5 separate regions of the Homo sapiens genome follow, and regions 2, 3, 4 and 5 are each reported to be linked to region 1. The links are microRNA targets in miRTarBase. Many come from high-throughput screens and were not tested one by one. Region 1 holds a microRNA gene; each other region holds the end of a gene's coding sequence. Distances are from middle to middle.
What was found. The annotated mature microRNA hsa-miR-1296-5p reads UUAGGGCCCUGGCUCCAUCUCC and lies in region 1 at 1,962-1,983, opposite strand. An mRNA with a match to its seed (bases 2 to 7 or 8) in the 3' UTR can be bound and repressed. Matches are read on the target gene's strand: a 7mer-m8 pairs with bases 2 to 8, a 7mer-A1 pairs with bases 2 to 7 and ends in A, and an 8mer does both.

Region 2: miRTarBase lists IFNGR2 as a target of hsa-miR-1296-5p. The part of its 3' UTR that is shown has no 7-base or 8-base seed match.
Region 3: the mRNA of BMS1 is a reported target of hsa-miR-1296-5p. The part of its 3' UTR that is shown has no 7-base or 8-base seed match.
Region 4: miRTarBase lists HCFC1 as a target of hsa-miR-1296-5p. The part of its 3' UTR that is shown has no 7-base or 8-base seed match.
Region 5: miRTarBase lists PAF1 as a target of hsa-miR-1296-5p. The part of its 3' UTR that is shown has no 7-base or 8-base seed match.

Annotation. Positions count from the first base shown.
Region 1 is chr10:63,371,051-63,375,200 of GRCh38, forward strand. MIR1296 (microRNA 1296) reads right to left here and starts at 1,998; the gene lies at 1,907-1,998. The region is part of intron 2 of JMJD1C (jumonji domain containing 1C); the gene reads right to left.
Region 2 is chr21:33,436,263-33,440,262 of GRCh38, reverse strand. IFNGR2 (interferon gamma receptor 2) reads right to left here. Exons shown (of 7, transcript NM_005534.4): 7 at 2,747-3,435. The coding sequence ends at 3,301. It also overlaps a transcript of TMEM50B not described here. Among named protein-coding and RNA genes, the nearest start is that of IFNGR2, 35 kb to the right of the region's middle.
Region 3 is chr10:42,830,822-42,834,821 of GRCh38, reverse strand. BMS1 (BMS1 ribosome biogenesis factor) reads right to left here. Exons shown (of 23, transcript NM_014753.4): 23 at 1-3,956. The coding sequence ends at 3,726. It also overlaps the pseudogene RNU6-885P. Among named protein-coding and RNA genes, the nearest start is that of LINC02623, 39 kb to the left of the region's middle.
Region 4 is chrX:153,946,129-153,950,128 of GRCh38, forward strand. HCFC1 (host cell factor C1) reads right to left here. Exons shown (of 26, transcript NM_005334.3): 25 at 3,425-3,488; 26 at 1,429-3,258. The coding sequence ends at 3,219. Among named protein-coding and RNA genes, the nearest start is that of RENBP, 3.5 kb to the left of the region's middle. RefSeq lists an enhancer at 1,597-2,136.
Region 5 is chr19:39,382,505-39,386,504 of GRCh38, forward strand. It overlaps PAF1 (PAF1 component of Paf1/RNA polymerase II complex), which reads right to left. Exons shown (of 14, transcript NM_019088.4): 13 at 3,978-4,000; 14 at 3,125-3,899. The coding sequence ends at 3,487. SAMD4B (sterile alpha motif domain containing 4B) reads left to right here. Exons shown (of 14, transcript NM_001384574.2): 13 at 704-787; 14 at 995-3,196. The coding sequence ends at 1,023. Among named protein-coding and RNA genes, the nearest start is that of PAF1, 6.6 kb to the right of the region's middle.

The DNA of each region.
Region 1 (4,150 bases):
CACCATAGCCTTGTACTCCTGGAGTCAAGCAATCCTCCCACCTCAACCTCCTGAGTAGCTGGGACTACAAGGCTTGCGCCACTACAATAGGCTAATTTTTTTTTTTTTTTGGTAGGGATGAGGGTATAGCTATGCTGCCCTGGCTGGTCTTGAACTCCTGGACTCAAGCAATTCTCCCGCCTCAACCTCCCAAAGTGCTGGGATTATAGGCATGAGCCACTGTCCCTGGTCTATAAGACTTTTTAAATACATAATTCTAGTGCTGATGTAATTAATTTTTTTTACTTAAATTTTCTCTACATTTTCCTAAAGTATGTACAATTATCACTTTTAAAGCTGCATAATATGCCAAAATATTAATTTAACAGCATTCACAAATTGTTGAACATCAAGGTTGTTCCATTTTTCTTTTCCTCTTTAATAAGACTGCAATAAACATCTTTCTTCTAATAACATTAAACCTTTCATTTTTTTAATCTGCAGCTCCCACCACAGTGTCTAATTCGTATGAGGTACGTGACAAACATTAGCTAAACTGAATACACTTTTTAAAAACTGTTTTTCAAGCATCGTTTCCTAAGACTAGAATTAATGAATCAAAGAGTATGAACTTCTTATGGTTCTTATAACATAATACTTTCCAAAAGAATAATGTCATTTTATAATCCACAAGATATGAGTGTGTGAACTCGTTCATTGCAATACATGCCAGTATTAGAGTTTATCATTTAAAAAGCTTAATATTTTATTATGTATAATTTGATCTCTTAAAGTGCTTTACCTTGTAGAGAAATAACAATCCTGAAGTTATATTGTCATTACTTCCATTTCATTATTTAACAAAGTACAAAAAGACATGCAACTGTTTATTCTAATTGTGGAAATTCAATTATAAATATGTAAAAACTCTTTAAATGAACATACTCCAAAGTTTATTTCTGACTTGGAAGGTGGCATATTTTCACATTTTAGTAAAATTTGCTTGAGGCCATAATCTAAACCAACTTTGATAACTGCTGGATATAAAGGTAATCTTGTCCCAAAGAGCAGTGAACTCTATTCTCCTTTGAGGGGGTTTCTTTTGGAACAGATAGTAAGTAAAAAGCACTCTAAGAGAATATTTTAAAATAAATAAATTGCTAAGAGTTTACGTGTTTATGATGTCATCACAATTCCTGGTTGAACCAGAATTGCCTATCTATGAAGGAAAAGCTACATTGAGAAAAAGTAGTCTGAGTTTCCTAAAACTCAATTCAGAAATTCAAGTAAATTATCAAAGATTTGAATATTTAAGTCAATTGTGAGGACTTCTGTTTCTTCCTTTAACATCTTTAAAATAACGCATTTCAGGTAATTTTACATTTTTCCCCTTGGTGATTTCAGGAATCAAATTTGTACCTGATGAGAATTGGCATTATAAGCTTTTTAGTATTTTTTATTATATATTGACATGTTTAAAATTGGTAACTCACAGTTTTACCACAATTGGGTGATTCTGCTTTCCTGTCCTTTGATATTATCATATGTTAATAGTCAGAAAACTTGTGATAACTCCCAGTAGGGTTCTTTTTCACTAGCTGGGTTGCAGCACATTCATCACTTTAAAATAAGAATTTACTTTCTGAGATGGGTAAAGCACTGTGCTAGACTCCAAGGAACCATACATAGATGACTAAGACATGACTCCTGTCCTCAAAGAACTTACAATCTATTAAGGGAAGACAGACATGCAAACAAATAGGTATAATACAAAGCAGAATGTGCTGATTGTTAAAACAGAGGTACAAAACAAAGTTCTATAGGAGCACAGGATGGTTATATAGGAGCACTGGTTGGGGTGATCTGGAAGGCTGGGCCAGCGGAAAAGTAGTAGAAAACTCTGCCCCTTAGAAAACACAGCAGTGTTACAGCCCACCTGGGTTAGGGTCGAAGCCCCACTCCCCACAGAAGGTTTTCCTAAAGGAGATGGAGCCAGGGCCCTAACCCAGTTAGGTAGGTGATTCGTTGATTTCAATTATGAATGCCAACACTTTCTTTCCCTGGTGCCGATAAATGTGCTTTCACAAGTATTTTACTTTATTAAAAAGTAAATAAAATTTAACAATCTATTAAGTAACTTACATGAAGACGCAAGTTACCTCAGCCTACAGCATTAGAATGGCCTCAAGTGGTACTCTGATTGTACAGGACCAAGCAAAAAAAGACACCACTTCAGCATCTTACATGTGGTGCTCCCATAAATGTTTTGCTACTGATATCCTAGAAAGAAAGAGGAACCAGACAATTCCAGAGAAGGAGCCTGGGTATTATACTATTCATATTTTGCTGAAGATGCAATTATGTTAAGTTTTAAAAAATATACTTTAAAATATGTTAATGAGACAACAGGATTTGTTTTTGTCTTGTCATGATCTCAAGAAACAGCAGGTACACTGCCAGTTTCCACTAATTTCTAGGTATAAGAGGTAGACAAGATAACGTAACTGATATGTAATATTAAACAAGTACCACACGAGGAGTGAAACAACTAGAAAGAAGATAATAAATACAAACATGTTTAAATACAAAAGAACATAAAGCAAGTATCATGTGCACAGAAATAGAAACATTAAATTTGTAGAAAATTAAAGACAAAGTATTAGTTTCTACTGTTTCATTCTATTGCCATCTCATATACAGATCCCTCAAATTTCTCAAATCTGTAGATATAGTATTTCATTACGCTGTAGGAATTTTAAAACGCTTAACTTTATAATTGCTGTTTATAGACATCCTTAAAGAAGCCAAATTTTAATGAACAAAAAAGGAAACAATAAAATCTCAGTCATATCAACTGTATATAAATGTTTGCAAAATGCTTATGAAACTTAAATTGACTATTTTCTTAATTATTACAAACAAGCATTCTCACTTCACTTGTTTATTAATTTTTACAATCTCCTAAAACAAAAGAAAAAAGGAAGGAAGGCAAGCACACATAACCTGACTACTGGAATTAATGACAATATCCCATTGCATAGACTTTAAAATAAACATACAATTCAAAAAGACTTACTATCAAACAACTGGCTAAGCAAACTATGAAATATGACAAAAAGGTTATAATATCTGTAATAATATAAAGAAAGCTCATAACAAATATAAAAAACTCAAAACCCTAATAAGTACTAAATAACAATTCACTAAAAATACAAGTTGCTCATAAACATGAAAAAAATTCACCCTATTAAAGGAATGCAAATTGAAACAACGAAATATTATTTTCAAATATCCAATTAGCAGAGAAAGAGTAACATTCAATGCTGCATCCCCTTAGGATGTAAAACTCCTCCTGTTTTGGCCAAATATTTGTGTTTTAAAACAAGATAAACTGCAAATAAATAATTAATGCTTACAAGGGTGTGATGAGTGAGATAAAAACACCCCAACACTGACTGAGGACAATGGCAGTCAGTACAACCTTTACACAATTTGTGAAGAGTGTCAGGAGATAGATTTTTGTGGCTTTCAAGTTCATACCCTGTGATTATTAATTCTACTACTATGAATATACATTTTAAAAAATCAGAGATGCAGACAAAGGCTTGCAATGGTATTTATCCCAGTTGCTTATAATGCTCCCTAGAACTGGAAACTACAATGTCAAACATTAAGGAAATGGGTCATTATAAGATTAAATATTATGCAGCCATTAAAAATGATCCTAAATTACTACTCATGAAGAGAAATGTAGAGGATAGATGTTAGGCAAAAAAGCAGGATCTACAATTTTAATGCAGTGTTAGCTAAAACTATGTTTAAAAGAAGGCAGAGATTTTGTACTTGCTAATTTGCCAAATTCATTTATTAGTTCCAGTAGGCTTTGTTGTGAAGTCTTTATGGTTTTCTAAGTATAAGATTATATCATCTGTGAACAGACACAATTTTACTTCTTTCTTTCCAATTTAAATGCTATTTGTCTTTTTCTGGTCTAATTTCTGGACTATAACTTCAAATACTATGTTGAGTGGACATGGCAAAAGCAGGGATCCCTTGTCTTATTCTTGATCTTAGAGGAAAAGCTTTCAGTCTTTCACCATTGACTAGGATATTACCTAAGCAACAGGATATGAAATCAACACATAAAAATTGGCTTTTTTTTTTTTTTTTT
Region 2 (4,000 bases), not on the chromosome of region 1:
AATATCATAGAATTTTCATGTGTGATGAAATATTCTTCTTTTGACTTTAACTATTCCAAGATGTAAAAGCTATTCTTAGCACACGGGTTTTACAAAAACAGGGAATGGGCTGATTTGGCAAGTAGGTTATGGATTATGCCCTGTCAACGGATTATTTATAAGAGTGCTTCCAACTCAAAAATTTTGACAATGTACTTAGCTTGACTTTATTTTTCTTGAGACAGAGTCTTGCTCTGTTGCCCAGGCTGGAGTGCAGAGGTGCCATGTCAGCTCACTGCAACCTCCGCTTCTCGGGCTCAAGTGATTCTCCTGCCTCAGCTTCCCAAGTAGCTGGGATTACAGGTGTGAGCCACCACGCCCAGCTAATTTTTGTATTTTTAATAGAAACAGGTTTTCGCCATGTTGACCAGGCTTGTCTCAAACTCCTGACCTCATGATCCACCCACCTCAGGGTCTCAAAGTGCTCGGATTACAGGTGTGAGCCACTGCGCCTGGCCTTGACAGTGTAAATACTAATCCCATCAATTAGTCATTTATTTTACTAAGGAGAATGAGGCATTTCATTTCAGAAAATACTATTTAAGGCTGGGCACAGTGGCTCACACCTGTAATCCCAGCACTTTGGGAGGCTGAGGTGAGCGGATCACCTGAGGTCAGGAGTTTGAGACCAGCCTGACCAACATAGTGAAACCCCATCTCTACTAAAAATACAAAAATTAGCTGGGTGTGGTGGCGCACATCTGTAATCCCAGCTACTCTGGAGGCTGAGGCACAAAAATCGCTTGAACCCGGAAGGCAGAGGTTGCAGTGAAGTGAGATTGTGCCACTGCGCTCCAGCCTGGGCAACAGGGTGAGACTGTGTCTCTAAATAAATAAATGGGGTGGCACAGATGCACTTACCCTAACAGAGTTGATTTGCCCTCTGTCCTGCTGGGCTGAAACTCTTTCCTGTTCTCCTGCTATAGATGTATCCTCCACTCCTCGCTGGCCACCATCCTGCTGCCCAACAGAAGAAGCTCTTCTGTCTCCGATTTCCTGAACGGTCTAAGGTAAGTCTTTACAACTCCTATCTACAACTTCTTCCTCCAAACTTGTCTACTTAAGGTGCACCTAATGCATACAACAGATGCTTCACAGGGAGACTTGTGTGCATGGGGTGGGAGTGGGCCTTGTTTTTCTAACTCTTGCCACTGCAGACAGCATGGTACACAACACTTAAGAGAGTTAGCCACTTTTGCCGGACACGGTGGCTCACGCCTGTGATCTCAACCCTTTGGGAGACCAAGGTGGGTGGATCATGAGGTCAGGAGTTCGAGACCAGCCTGGCCAACATGGTGAAACCCCATCTCTACTAAAAATACAAAAATTAGCCAGGCATAGTGGTGCACGCCTGTAATCCCAGCTATTCGGGAGGCTGAGGCAGGAGAATTGCTTGAACCTGGGAGGTGGAGGTTGCAGCGAGCTGAGATCGCGCCACTGCGCTCCAGCCTGGGCGACAGAGTGAGACTCTGTCTCAAAAGAAAAAAAAAAAGCCACTTTCTTACCAGCAGTACAGGGCCCCAACTGCCTCCCATGTAGCTGGGATTATAGGTGCCTGCCACCACACTCAGCTAATTTTTGTGCTTTTAGTGGAGACAGGCTTTCACCATGTTGGCCAGGCTGGTCTCGAACTCCTGACCTCAGGTGATCTGCCTGCCTCGGCCTCCCAAAGTGCTGGGATTACAGGTGTGAGCCACCGTGCCCAGCCTATAAATGGATTTTAAATACATATCCTTTGAACAACAGAGCCCGACAGTACTGACACAATCAGATGACTTGCGTGCTCAGTAGATAACATTACTATTGATTAATCAGTTAATTCTCTTTATTGCCCACAAATCCCTGCCTTGGTCAACACAGTGTGACTTGTCACATATAAATGAAGTGCTAATGTGCCTTCTGCAAATCCCCCTTATAACTTTTATATTTTTGAGACAGGGTCTCTTGCTCTGTTGCCAAGGCTGGAATGTAGTGGTGTAATCATTGCTCACTGCAGCCTTGAACTCCTAACTCCTAGGCTCAAATGATCCTCTGGTCTCAGCCTCCTGAGTAGCTGGGACTACGGGTGTGCACCACCACGACTAGCTAATTTTTTATTTTTTGTGAAAACAAGGTCTCACTATGTTGCCCAGGCTGTTCTCAAACTCCTGGCCTCAAGCGATCCTCCCATCTTGACCTCCCAAAGTGCTGGGATTACAGGCATGAGCCACCATGCCCAGCCCTCTTTTTTTTTTTTTTTTTGAGATAGGGTCTCGCTCTGCCTCCCACGCTGGAGTGCAGTGGCATCATTTCGGCTCATGGTAACCTCCGCCTCCCAGGCTAAAGCATCCTCCCACTTTAGCCTCTCAAGTAGCTGGGACTACAGGTGCATGTCATCATGCCTGGATAATTTTTGCATTTTTCATAGAGACAGGGTTTCACCATGTTGCCCAGGTGGGTCTAGAACTCCTGGCCTCAAGTGATCCACCCACCTCAGCCTCCCAAAGTGCTGGGATTATAGGCGTGGGCCACTGCACTAGGCCCTGGCCTTCTTTATAACCTTTGGAGGATCAAGTGACATCCATAGGAAGTGTTTGCTGAGTTCCCATGAGGCCTCAGTAGCTCTAGCAGGTGTTATTTAAGAAAAAACAAGTTTAGATTGAGTAATTTTAGAAAGCTGAAACTCTGCAGAAAATAGGCTACAATAAAGAAAACACTTCACATAGACTTTAAAAAACATGCACTATACAATCTTTTATTTCCAGTTTAAAAACAAAATCTTAAATTACTAGGAGTATATTTACAAGATTAATTACATTTTAAGCCAGCACACCATGGATGTACATGAAGGGCCACTCGGTGTCCCTCGCTGGGACAGGTTGTGTGACCTGCCCAAGGGGCTCCGGCTCATTTGCCAAAGTCAAGACGACGACCAGGTCTTCTGACTGCTCAGCCCAACCAATAATGAAAAAAGTATCAGAGATGTGTCATATCCATTTTGCTAACAAGCAATTACATGCCTTTTTAGTGTTTAAGAGAAGCCTTAATTTTCCTGGGATATCTCCGTAAAATCATTCTGGAATTTGATTTTGAAAATTCTTTAAGAAAAAAAAAAAAAGCTTGTCACCCCCATGAGACCTGCTGTCTCTCATGTCTGCAGGGACAGGCCTTTTAGAGGCAGCAAAAGGGAATACTGGTCTCTGGAAAGTCCAGACAGAACTCTAGCAGCTCCGATGGCTTGATCTCTTCCAGGGAGCCAGTGGGCTAGGCCCATGCTTTGGTTCAAAGCGTTTGGAGAACATCTTCTTGCTCCTTTTCCGGAAACGAGATAATGGACACAGAGTCCCAGACGTCATCCTTTGGTGAGCTGTCCTTGTCCAAGGCCTCTAAGATGGGCTGAGTTGGGTCTTTTAAATACTTGAGGAGGTTGGAAAGCAAAATTGTAATTAGTTTACCAGTTCAGTATACCAGACCTTTTAACTTTAGTTTTTGTTTTTATTTTATTTTTATTTTTATTTTTTTTTTGAGATGGAGTCTTACTCTTGCCTAGGCTGGAGTATAGTGGTGTGATCTCAGCTCACTGCAACCTCTGCTTCCCAGGTTCAAGCGATTCTCCTGCCTCAATCCTCCAAGTAGCTGGGACTACAGGTGCCCACCACCTTGCCTGGCTAATTTTGTATTTTTAGTAGAGACAGGGTTTCACTATGTTGGCCACGCTGGTCTCAAACTCCTGATCGCAAATGATCCACCCACCTTGGCCTCCCAAAGTGCTGGGATTATAGGCGTGAGCCACTACGCCTGGCCTACTTTAGTTTTAATTGGTATAGTTATTTTATTCAGATATAAGTTGATTCTGTCCACCAATGACATAACTTATTTTTCTTTTTATTCAACAATGAAACAATTTTTTTTTTTTGAGACGGAGTTTCACGTTGTTGCCCAGGCTGGAGTGCAATGACACGATCTCATCTCACTGCAACCT
Region 3 (4,000 bases), 21 Mb from region 1:
CAGGCCACCTGGTCTAAATGTATGACACATCCTTTTCTCTCTACATGCCAGTTGGCAACCTTATTTTAGAGTGTCCAAACTTTGCTTAAGAAAAGACTTAAAAGATTCCTCCAAATACCCATCCAACCAAAGTTTATCTGATTTTCGATAAGGTACCATCCCCAAATATGAAATGCTAAGTCTCATAATAAAACACCTTTGGCATTTAAATGTCCAACATCTCAACCTTTTGTCTTGTTAAAGGATTATAAAAATGTACAATACTTTAAAACCATGAAATAAACTAGGTAAAACTAAGGAGACACAAGTAAAATACAATGTCCTTGCTGAAGACTCTGAATAATGGCTTTAAGAAATACCTGAGTCTGGCAAAATACTAGATACTAGAAGTCGGTACCAAGGGCAATTAAATCGATGCTCTTTTTCCCATCAGCGAGGTAAGCTCTGGAGCCTCCAGAGAGCTGAATCAGACCCGGTGGCTTTCCTCTTTGCTCAAACATTTATTTCTGAAATGGCGGGCATGTCACCAAATGATAATACTTAAAGCAAGTTCACAGGTTTTGTTAAAAAAAGAAAACAATCTAGTACATCCACAAATAGGAAACCAAACACACCTGAACACATCTATGATTAAATAAGAATATTTAATGGCATGGAATGATATGTACACTGTAGGTTCAATATGTTTTCAAAACATACCTAGCACCTATGGCTGCCTGTGCCTAGTAAATAGAAAAGGTATAACAGAATAATTTTTACAATTTACAAAGTTTAATACAATTGAGAAAGGTTTCTATAAACATTGTTAAAATATTTCAGAGGGCAAATGCTTACTTTGCATAGCAATGCTTCAGTTACCTGGAATGCCCTCCCTTCTTTCTTCCAAGCAATTTTATGCAGCACGAAGCTCAGTGGCTCTACTCCAAGTGCCAACAAGGTGAACAACCCAGTTCCTGCTCTCATGGAACTCACATTCTGGTGGAATTTGTTTTTGCAACATACTTGCTGACAATATCAAATTAATAAGCCATTAGTATTGAAAAGTAATTTACACACTCTCCAGTCTGGTCCTTATTTTGATATATGTCTTCCTATGAGATGGATGCAAACTCACAGCAAAAACTATGTGTATACATACAGCCACATGCCGCATGATGTTCAGTCAAGGATGGACCACGTATATGGCAGTGGTTCCACAATACTGTATTTTTGCTACGCCTTTTCTATGTTTCGATACACAAATGTTTACCACTGTGTTACAACTGCCTACAGTAGTCAGTACAGTCACATGCTGCCCAGGTTTGTAGCCTAGGAGCAACAGGCCATACCATAGAGCCCAGGTGCACAGTAGGCTGTACCATCTAGGTTTGTGTGTCACTCTATGATGTTTACACAATGACAAAATTGCCTAATGATACATTTCTCAGAATATATCCCCATCCTTAACTGATGTGTGACTGTATTTTACTAACCTGGCCAGGTGGAACCTTCACCAATAAAAATTCTACATGAAAAATGCTATTTATTGTTTCTTTCAGACATTAGAGATTCCTTAACTTTAGTTTAAATAATCTTAATATGCAAACTTTTTATTTCCCTTGTTCTCCAAATATGATAAACCAAGATTTTTAATATTAACAGGTATGAGTTCTGCCTACATACATTGTCTTTGGAAAAGGCAATTATCTGCAACTGTAATTAAACATTCTTTTATTTCCCCCATTGCTAAAGGATTCCACTCTTCTGGCTAAAATATAAAACTATACAATTATAAATACTTATTTGCAATGCTTCTCTTTGAACAAATTTGCTTGTTGTATAAGACACTTGCTGATCACCTTGTAAGCTACTTAAAACATGGTATGACTTGAGTGCCTTGTATATTTTAGTTGAATTATAGTTTTGCATTTTAAAATATATCAATTATGCTATATAACAAATTAGTTTTAAATTATAATTGTTATGGGCTTACTATGTGTCAGTCCCCAGGCCTATCAGCATAATGGATGATGAAATTCATAATAGCTCTTGAGGAACAGAGGAAAATGTACACCCAGAGTTGCCCAGAGAGGTCTGGGAGTGTTCCAATTGTCACTTCCCAGGTGGACCTAGCCCTGACAGGATCCTCACATCCTCTTCCCTTCTTATGGAGATACAAAGCTGAGCACCTGCCTACAGACTTTAGGCTTTTAGAGAGCCTCTCAGACTAGGCCAACTGCTCATAATCCTGCCAACCCTCTTTGGCCCCTATGATGTTGTAAAGGCAATGTGGCACTCATATCAGCAGCACACATACTATAACTGGCACAACACAGAGGTCAGCATGGGCCCCATGCACAGATGACACACAAATTCATGAAGTGTTCTACATACATATATGTATAATTTTTTTTTTTTGAAACAGGGTCTTGCCCTGTCGCCCAGGCTGGAGTGCAGTGGTGCTATCATGGCTCACTGCAGCCTCAACCTCCCAAGCTCAAGTGATCCTCCTACCTCAGCCTCCCAAGCAGCTGGAACTACAGGTGTGCACCCACCACACCTGGCGAATTTTTTATTTTTTGTAGCGATGAGGTTTTGCCATGTTGCCCAAGTTGGTCTCAAATTCCTGGGCTCAAGTGATCCTCCTGCCTTAGCATCCCAAAGTGCTGGGATTACAGGCGTGAGTCACTGTGCCCAGCTGCGTTCCATATTTCTACACACCCATGCATACATGGAGGAGTATACGTTGGGGAAAGTAAAGCTGGGGAAATGTGAATAAAATCAGCGGGCTGTATTGATGTCAACATCCTGATTGTTATATGTGTGAAACATTACCACTGAGAGAAATTGGGCAAAATATACAACTATATGTGAATCTATGATTACATCGTATAGGAATAGATTCCCCATAACTATATCAACATACAATCATAAAATACATACATCGCCTATGTAATAGTATGATTACTTCAACATAATGTTTAATTTAAAAAAAGGCAATGTAGCTAGGCAGGTATAACGCATGAGCATAATACGGGAAGCCTATCTCACTGATACATACGATTTCCTTGGTCTCTGCACCTGAGACAATAATCTCCTAAGTCTAAAGCTTTAAAAAAGTACTTACTGTTACCTTGTCACTATACTAATGTGCAGAACATATGAAATAAGATAGAAAATGTCCACAAGGGCCAGTGATCAAAGGAGCCCATAGATCCTGGGTGCACAGTAGGCTGTACCATCTAGGTTTGTGTGTCACTCAAACAAAAAACAAAACAAAAACACTACACACTATTCTCTAAAATCTTCCATGGGAGCTCAGAGTTCAAGTGAATATTTCTTTCTCTTCTGGAAGACTCCTCATGAAGGTGGTAGTATAAATAATTATCCACAAAGAATTGTCAGGCATTCATCCCTAATGAAAACTACTAAGCCAAAAGTAACAAAAAAATATTTTAATGATATTTCTGTAGGACAAAATAATTAAACTGAGGCAGGCAGAGGAAAGTAAGAGAATCCACATAACCACAGCTTACATCACTTTAAATCTCGACAGCCCCAAGTCATGAGAATGAACCCAGTCCCAGCAGCCCAGGCTTCTCTGTTCCTCCTCCTGCAGGCACAGTTTGAGTAGAGACATCTCTTGAGCTCTTTCCCACTGACTTGTCATTCACAGGCATTCAAACTGTGATGTTTGAAACTGTCTACCTCCGCAGATCCAGGGACAGTCCCTCCAGTCCAAAGGCTCACTGCAATTGGCCCTCAGCCCCCTTCAAACTGGACTTCTGGTTTCTTCTTTCCTTCTGCCCCTGAATTCTGAAGAGCTTCTTCCTGAGGTCCTTCTGCCGCTTCAGCTTCTCCTCCTCCTCCTTCTGCTTGGCTCTGAAGTGCTCTTTATTGTGCAGGTGCCGCTGCTCCTTGGCCTTCTTCATCTTCTGACTATGCACCGTACTCAGAGCATCCAGCAGTGCAAGGATCTGACAAGGACAAAAGCCGGTGAGTATCAGAATGCTCTCAGACA
Region 4 (4,000 bases), not on the chromosome of region 1:
GCTCAGGGGATGAGCTTTGTGCCCAGCCGGGCTGTATCTACCTGCCCTGCTCACAGGCCTGTCATGTTCACATTCATGTCCAGCCTCCCTCCTGCCTCCCCAGACTGAGTGGTGCCCTCAGACGGAAACGCGGTATTTTCAGATAAACACCAGAGGCATGACTGATGTGGCCCTTGCCTTGTGGAGTGTGATGCAGCCGCGGTGAGACAAGTGAGCTGAAGGAATGCGGAGGGTGGGTAGCCCCACAGGTGCCAGCTACAGAAGTGGGGTAGGAAGAAGCCTTGTACCACCCCCACCAGGCGAAGCGCCCACAACGCCATTTGCCAAAGGTATGGCAAATCCGCAAGGCCCCTCGGTTCTGGGGCCAGCCCCATGTGGCCCCTGGCCTCCACCAGCCCCAGCCATGACTCCTACCGCTCTGCTCTGAAGGACACTTTCCCACCCCTCTCCTTGGGCCTCTGCGAGGCTAGGCTCCAAGGCAGGTCACAGTTGGTGCGGTGGGTAAGACAGAGCCATGGCTCCTGGTGTCAAGCCCTGGCCAGTCTGCTTCCCCCCACCCCCACATGACACAGCAGACCCCACAGGACAGAGGCTTCCCAGAAGAGGTCGCATTCGACAGGGCCTTGCACACACACCCATGCCACAGGTGGAGACACGGAGGCTTTGGTTACTCCAGGAGCTTCTGGTAGCGGAGTGCCTGGGTGCTCTGAGAGGAAGGCTGGGCAGTAGAGGTGTGTAGGGGAAACAAAGGCAGGCGGCAGGGGCTTGGAGGGGGCGGGGAATGCAGGTGCGCCAGGAGCACCAGGCCCCAGAAGCAGGGTGTCACTCCCCTCAGACCCGCCTAGGCCTGTGCTGCTCCGGCCACCTTGCCCCGGAGCTTTCTGGGCCTCCTGGTACAAATTCAGCCCACGGGATCCCAGCTGTCCTACCGACCCAGCTGCTAGGTGGTCAGTCTGGATCACAAGCTCTTGCTTCTTCCCCTTGGGGGCATGGCTCACATTTAAGAGGAAGCCAGAGGAAGGGATCCACCTCTGCAGTACCCGTGGTGTACTTGACTCAGCCCACCTCCCCCCAACCCACCCAAGGAGGCTGCCGCTGGTGACCTGCCAGGCCCTTGCCCCATCCTATCCTCTAGTGCAGGAGGGGAGGGAGGGAGATCTGGGCCCCAGACACAGGAAGTCAGCAGCAGCTGCCCAAGGGGCTCTTTGGCCCTTGCCCTGCAAGGCAGCTACCAAGCAACCTGCTGGACCCTGGTCCGACTTGGTCCAAAGACCGGAGGCCACAGCAGAGGCCTCACTCTGGGGCCTTCTACGCTTTCACCAGAGCTCAGGTCTCCCTCCAGGGGGCTCCCGTGAGCCTCGGGCAGGTCTCAGCCTTCCCGCTCAGGCTTCCTGAGAGGATGCCGGGACACAGTGAGACACCTAGTGGTTATTTCAAAAAAAGTCTTTTAATTGTTCAAAATAGCACAAAACGACATCGCACTATGGTAATATTGAGTCACAGGGGTTACTCTACAATAGTGAACGGTGTACTCTCCTCAGAAACAAATCAATAGGCGCGCGAGAGAAGGGATGGGGTAAAACAACAGGACCAGGTGAGTGGGCTCCAAGGTGACTAAACGTGACATTTTCCACAGCGAAATATACTATAATACAACAAACCAGAGGCCCTGGAGGACACAGGCTGCTGCGTCTCCAGGCAGAGGTCGGTAGGGGAGGGCTGGAAAGATTGGCTGCTCGGTTCAAATCCTTCTGACTTGCTGGCAAGCCTTGCTCCTCGACAGAAGTTTGGGGTGGGGGGCAGAAAACTCCAAGCAGATCCCCCAGCCTCGGAGCCTGGCCTGAGTTCCATGCTGCACAGCTGCTGCTGGTGGCCTGCTCCATTGCCCTAGCCTCCCTTGTGGGTGACACTACACAGTCACCCTCCCAAGCTGCCTCCAAGGACGCCTGGTTCCCCTCCATTCTCCACCCTTTCCATGACGATTTGGGGGAGGTGGAGCAGTGGCTGCGGAAACCAGCAGCCCTGTTTGGGAGGCGGTGCCGGTGGTGCTCAGGGAGGGGGCATGGGGAGAGCTGGAAATCCAGGACAAGGAGGCCCCAGCCCTCCCTCAAGCTCCCCTAGGCTCGACCCTATAGATGCGGAGTGATCGCCCATGAGGAATGAGCTGTCCTTCCTTTGTTCCAGCGGCCTGAGGACAGGCAAAAGGGCAGAGGGCAGGGGCCAGCAACAGGAAGTTGGGCTGGGTGGCAAACAGCAGGCCCCTCGTGGCAGATTTCACACCTCTCCTGCCCTGGCTGGCCCCAGCTTTTCCTCCAGAAAGATCCCTGCCAAGAATTAGCCAAGAAGAAAAAAGTAAAAAAACAAAAACAAAACAAAACAAAACAAAAAAAAGAGAAAAGAAAAAAGATTACACATTCTGTACACAGCTAACAACAACAAAAAAGGGACAAAACCCCACACGCTAAAATTACAATGAAAGTGTGAACTTCACCAATTGCAACCTAAAAAACACAACAAATGCAGCAGTTGGCAGTGCGGCCTGCAGGGAGGTCTGCACAGGCGCTGCCCAGGCCGCCGCGGGGCTCCTTGCCCCTTTTTTCTTTTTCCTTCTTTTCTTTTTTAAAATGGGAAAGAAGAGGGGGAGGGTAGAAGAGGTGGGAGCACAAAGGCCTCTGAGAAAATGTGTAAGCTTCCTGTGGGGTCACTGAGCAGGGTGGGCCGGGGGAGCCTGAGGAAGGGAAGTTAGGTGACTGGAAACACAAGGGGAAGAAAAGAAAACAGAACCAGACACCCAGGCCAGGGTGCCAGGAAAGCCACTCTGGGGAGGGCCAAGAGGGACGCCTTTCCTCCCCTCCATGCCTGCCCCCGACCTGGCCCTCAGGAACGCACAGCCTTGGGAGGGCGGAGCTGGCTGTCCTCAGCTCCGCCTTCCCTCCCCGCAAAAGTCTCTCCCCAGGGTGGGCGGCAGCGGGGAGGAAAGGAAGCGCGCTCCTCTCTCTGCTTTCCCATCTGCCTCTGCTTCCTCCCAACAGCAATGGTAAAATGTGCTTTCTTTAGATTATTTTAAAAACAGAGAGAAAGAGAAAGGGGAGAGGAGTGAACAGCGGCTCGCGAGGGTGAAGTGCGAATGCTGGGACGGGGTGGGAGGGGTGGGCCCTGGCGGGTGTTCCTGAAGCAGGGGGGTCTGGAGAAGAATCCAGGGGCTAGTCAGCTTCCTCTCACTGACCATCGGCCTTAGATTTCTTTGGAGCAGATTTCCTTGGAAGGCAGAAAAAGGAAAGAGAAAGTTAGTGTGGGCCCTGCACCACTGGAGGCCCTGCTGGTGCAGGGCCGGTTAGGGGCCCCCAGTCATTTGACAAGAGGCTGAACCCAGCTATTTCCACCCCTAGTCTCAGAAGGTTCCCGAGAGGGGCTTCCTGCTTACATTTCTGGAGAGGACATGGGCCGCTTGTTGGCTGGCTTGGTGCCAGAGCTGTCTTTACTGGTTTCTGGAAGGAACGGGAGAGATGCGTGAGCAGCATTGTGACAGAACGAGAGCAAGGAACACATGCGCCCTGCCCGCCTGCAGAGTCTCTTGGTGCCACATGGCATGACCCGCAGCTGGCAAGGGTGGGGCGCCTGCCCTATGGGTGGTCACCTTTTACGCCACTCCTTGGGACCAGAACACGACACCACTCACTCCCCTCTGGACGTAGGTTAGAAACCCACTCAGCTCAGCTCCCACCTCTCACTGCCCTCCCAGGTCCCAGAGCCCCAGGGGAGCTGGAGCAGGAGCATGACCTGACAGGAGGCAGGCTGGCCTCCATCCCTCACCTGCTGCACTCCAGGGACCTGGGACGTGCTGTTTTCGGGCCTGGAAACCTACACTTTCCCGCCAGCCCTCTCACTGCTTGTCCCCTCAAACATCCTGGGGTGGCGTCCCCTGCACCCCCAGGCCCGGAGCTGGGTCCCCTGCTCTACTTGATGGCCACCCCCGTGGGGGGCTGTGTGCGCGCCAAAG
Region 5 (4,000 bases), not on the chromosome of region 1:
CAGTGATGAGAGATGAGGGTGGAGATGGGAGCTGGGTCGTCTAAATCCAGGTAAACAGCTCGGACTTTGTCCTGATGGCAGTGAGGAGTCAGGGAAGGGTTTAAGCAGTGTAGTGAGGGAGGTCAGGTCTGCCCAGGGAGGTGGGTGGTTTCCCAGATGCCCGAATAGGAGGCCCTTTTGAGAAGTGTGGTTTGAGGACAAGTCCCATGGTGGTTGTCCTACTTTGCCCCCACCTGCCTGGCCTGCCTGGATTGAATCCTGCCCAGAGGAGCAGGTCCAAGTGGGGACAGGAAGGGTTTTGATTTAGCTTTTGCACCAAGTACAGAGCAGGTCTTCAATCAGGGAGCCTTGGGGGCTGCCCAGTGTCCAGGGCAGATGCCCAGACTGTGCTCAAGACAGTATGCAGTCTGTGTCCAGAGTAGTCACAGCAGGCTGTGTGTGGCCTCCAGGAGCTCCTTCAGTTTCAATTCCACTCTCTGCAAGTCGGGCTTTTTCTGTATTGCCAAGCCTCTGCCATTGCCATTGTCTCCTCTGCCTGTTGTGTGACACGCTCGCCTCTCTCCCTGTCCACCTCCTCCCGTTCTTCCCTCTCCCCCTCCATCTCTCTTGCTCCCTTCCCATACCAGCATCCTTTGTCATCCCAGCTGTCTTCACCTGAGTCCAGTTGGTCCTTACCACCCCCATTCTCCTCTCTCCCACCCAGACTGCCCGGTTCCTGGGCCTGACCTGGAGATCAATCCCACTCTGGAGTCTCTGTGTCTGAGCATGACAGAACACGCCTTGGGTGGTGAGCATTTCCTCTTTCCCTGACCCAGCTCCCACCTACCCAGCGTCTCTGCCTCTGAACTGAGCAACTCAGAGTCATCCTGAGGGGTCCCCAGGGGAGGCCAGACTCCAGGGAGGGCCTGACTGGGATGACAGGCTACCTGAGTGCCTTTTCTTGGGCCTCCCTCCAGCTCCTGATCTTCCTCCCTTCCTCCCTTTCTTACCACAGATGGGACAGACAAAACCTCCACCATCTGACGGGACCCACAGCCCAGCGCACCCATAGGCTCCCTGGGCGGCGGGCGGGGGCCAACCCCCAACGGGCTTCTCCGCGACAGCGAGAGGGTGGGCTGGCTCAGCTATATATTCTAATATTTTTCTACTCTCTTACCCTCTTAACTTTTGTTTAACATTGGCACATGCCTTGCTCACTCCCAGGCCCGTCGAGGGATCTCTGCTGAGGCCCGGGGAGTTGGGGGCAGCCAGGATAAAGGGGGCAGGGACTGGCCAGACTGCCTGCCTCTCTCCTTTCCTTCCTCATCCCCACCTGGTCCCATCCCACCCCTGCCTCCTCCAGACCGCTGACCACCTGCCTCTCCCCAAGGGAGCAGACTCCCCAGAGACAAACTGACCACTACCTTGTGGAGCCTGCTCAGAAACATTTGACATTTGGGGTGACGCGCAGGGCAGAGAACCTGCCCTCCAGAATGTTATTGAGAGGAGCTGGGGAGAAGGAAGGGGAGCAAGGAGAGGAAGCTCTCTCTCCTCTCCCTGCTTCCCCTTCACCATTCCCCACATTCTGCAAGGACAGGAGCCACCTTCCTCTCTCTCACCTCCCCTGGCCCTGTTCACCAGAGGTTCTCTATGATTAATTTCTTAGGCCTATTTAAGATACATATTTATATAGTTCTTAACGGTTTTTCTCTGATCATTTCCTCTCATTTTTAGAATCCCCAGGTCTCTCTCAGCCAAGACAGTGGCAGGGAGAGCCTGAACTTTATGAGGGGAGAGGGCAGAGCCCCCTCCTCCAGACCCTCAAGCTCTAACCCATTTTCCTCCAGCCCTGGCTACCCGGATGAAGAGGTTGGAGGTGGGCAGCCAGGGTAGCCAGTGAGGTCAGGAAGTCTGTTGCCTTAACGTCCCCTTCCCCACGAACACACACCCTTCTCCGCTCCCAGGTCTGGTTGGTGAGACTTGGGAGTCAGGAATAAGGGAAAGGGGATTGTTTGGTTTTTGGGTTTTTCCCTAAGCCCCTCCCTTTTCTTTCAGCCTTTTTCCTTCCCCCATTATGTCATGACCTCACTTAAGTGGAACACTATATCATAACCCAGAGATTCGTCCCAGCCCCAGAGTCCGACAGACTGTCTGGTCCCTATTCCTAATGAGGGGTTGTGTTGGGGCCCAGGTGGAGGGAGGGGATTTGGGGGTTCAGACTGCGGGGAAGCCAGGGTCTCCCTCTTCAACGCCCTCCTCCCCCTCAACCCACCTTCCCAACTGGGACATTCTCAAGCTTTTCACACCGAAAAGGAAAAAAAATGTTATTTTTAGATACATTTTATGAATAACTTTTGTTATGAATATGGCTGGTAACCATTGTGTATGTTATTAAAGATACAAAATGTTGGGAAAAAAACAAAAAAAACAAAAAAAAAAAAAATTTTAAAACCACCACCCTCCCTGCACTATCACCCCATTCCCCAGACCTTCTTGCCCCCGCCCTCCTGGTCTGTGGACTTCCCTCTGCTCTGAGCCCAGGGAGGGGGAAGAAGCCAGGGGGTAGGGTGGCCCTGGGAACCTGGCTCTGGGTCCCCACTTCCTCTCCCAGTGCCGGGCTGGGTGGGGTGTCAGGTTTATTTATGTACCTCTTGCACACTCATCAACCTATGCAAGTCCCCCACCCCGGCCCTCCATGTTTCTGTGCCTTTGCTCATCCCCTCAATCTCCCAGGGCTTCTCCAGTCCCCCTCCCACTAGCTGCAGGAAGTGGGATGGATGGGCCACCTCGTTTGGAATCAGCAGGGTGTCCCTCTCATGGGACCCTCCCCTCTCCCCAGCCTGTCCTGTCTTGTTCACTCTCCATCAGGGTGAGCTGACTGTGCCTGGCACTGGGAGGTGGTGAGGGACACCGTCTCACACACACAGGGAGGCAAGAGCTGCCCCCCACCCCACCTGACAGCAGAGTGTGCAGGACGCAGGCGGCCCCACTCTGATGGGCAGGACCCTGACCCTCTCCCGCTCCAGCCCCCTCCCCAGGCCCTCCTCCATGATTTCACCCTCCCTACCCACTTCTGTCCCCGGCCCCACTGGCAGAATCAGCTTTGAGTAACTGTACAGTTTTTCTCGCTGTTGGAGAAGACTTATTTGTTGGAGTTTCACTTGTTTAATGGTCTGGGCTTATTTTGGAAAAAAAAAAAACAAACAAAAAAAACGAATTCTGACCTTCGTTGTGCTACATTTTGTGGGAAACCATTGGCCCTGCCTCTGGCCTGTGTTTCTAAGCCTCAAGCCAAGATCCTTGAGCACCTGGGGGTTGCGGGAGGTATGTGCTGGGCTGAATGACATCATAGGGGCTGGGAGGGGAAGTAAAGAGAAGTTGACTTTATTAACAGCAAAGGTTTGGGGGTGGGGAACAAACAAGTGAAAGGCTCACAAACAGACCACTAGAAAAGTGCTTTGCTGCTCACAATAATGGTGTCTGAACCAGCCCTGAATGCCCTGGGACTCAGTCACTGTCACTATCAGCTTCACTGGAATCAGAAGCTGCAGCTTCACTGCCATCCTCCTGGGCCGAGTGCTCGCTGCCACTGGGGAAGGGACTGGCGCTGCGGCTGTGGCTCCGGCTCCGCTGGCCACCCCCATTGCTGCCGCTGTCTGAATCATTGTCACTGCCACCTTGGGCCTGTCCTCTGTCCTCATCATCAGAGTCGGCATCGTCCTCAGAATCAGCATCACTGCCAAAGATCTCCTCTTTGTCACGGGCAGCCCGGGCCTCATCCTCGCTGCTCTCGTCCTCACCACTGCCACTCTTGTCACTGGCCTCGTCCCTGTCACCTTCCTCCCGTTCACTCTCGCTGCCCGAGTGCTCATCTTCACTGCCCTCCTTCTCACTGCTGCTGCCCTTCTCCTGCTCCTCATCTGGAAGGGAGTGGAGAGAGATGAAACCCACTTTTCCACCCTCCCAGGGCTCCCAGAGTCTGGCCTGTCCAGATTTACCTGAGCCCCCAGCTTCTTTCTCT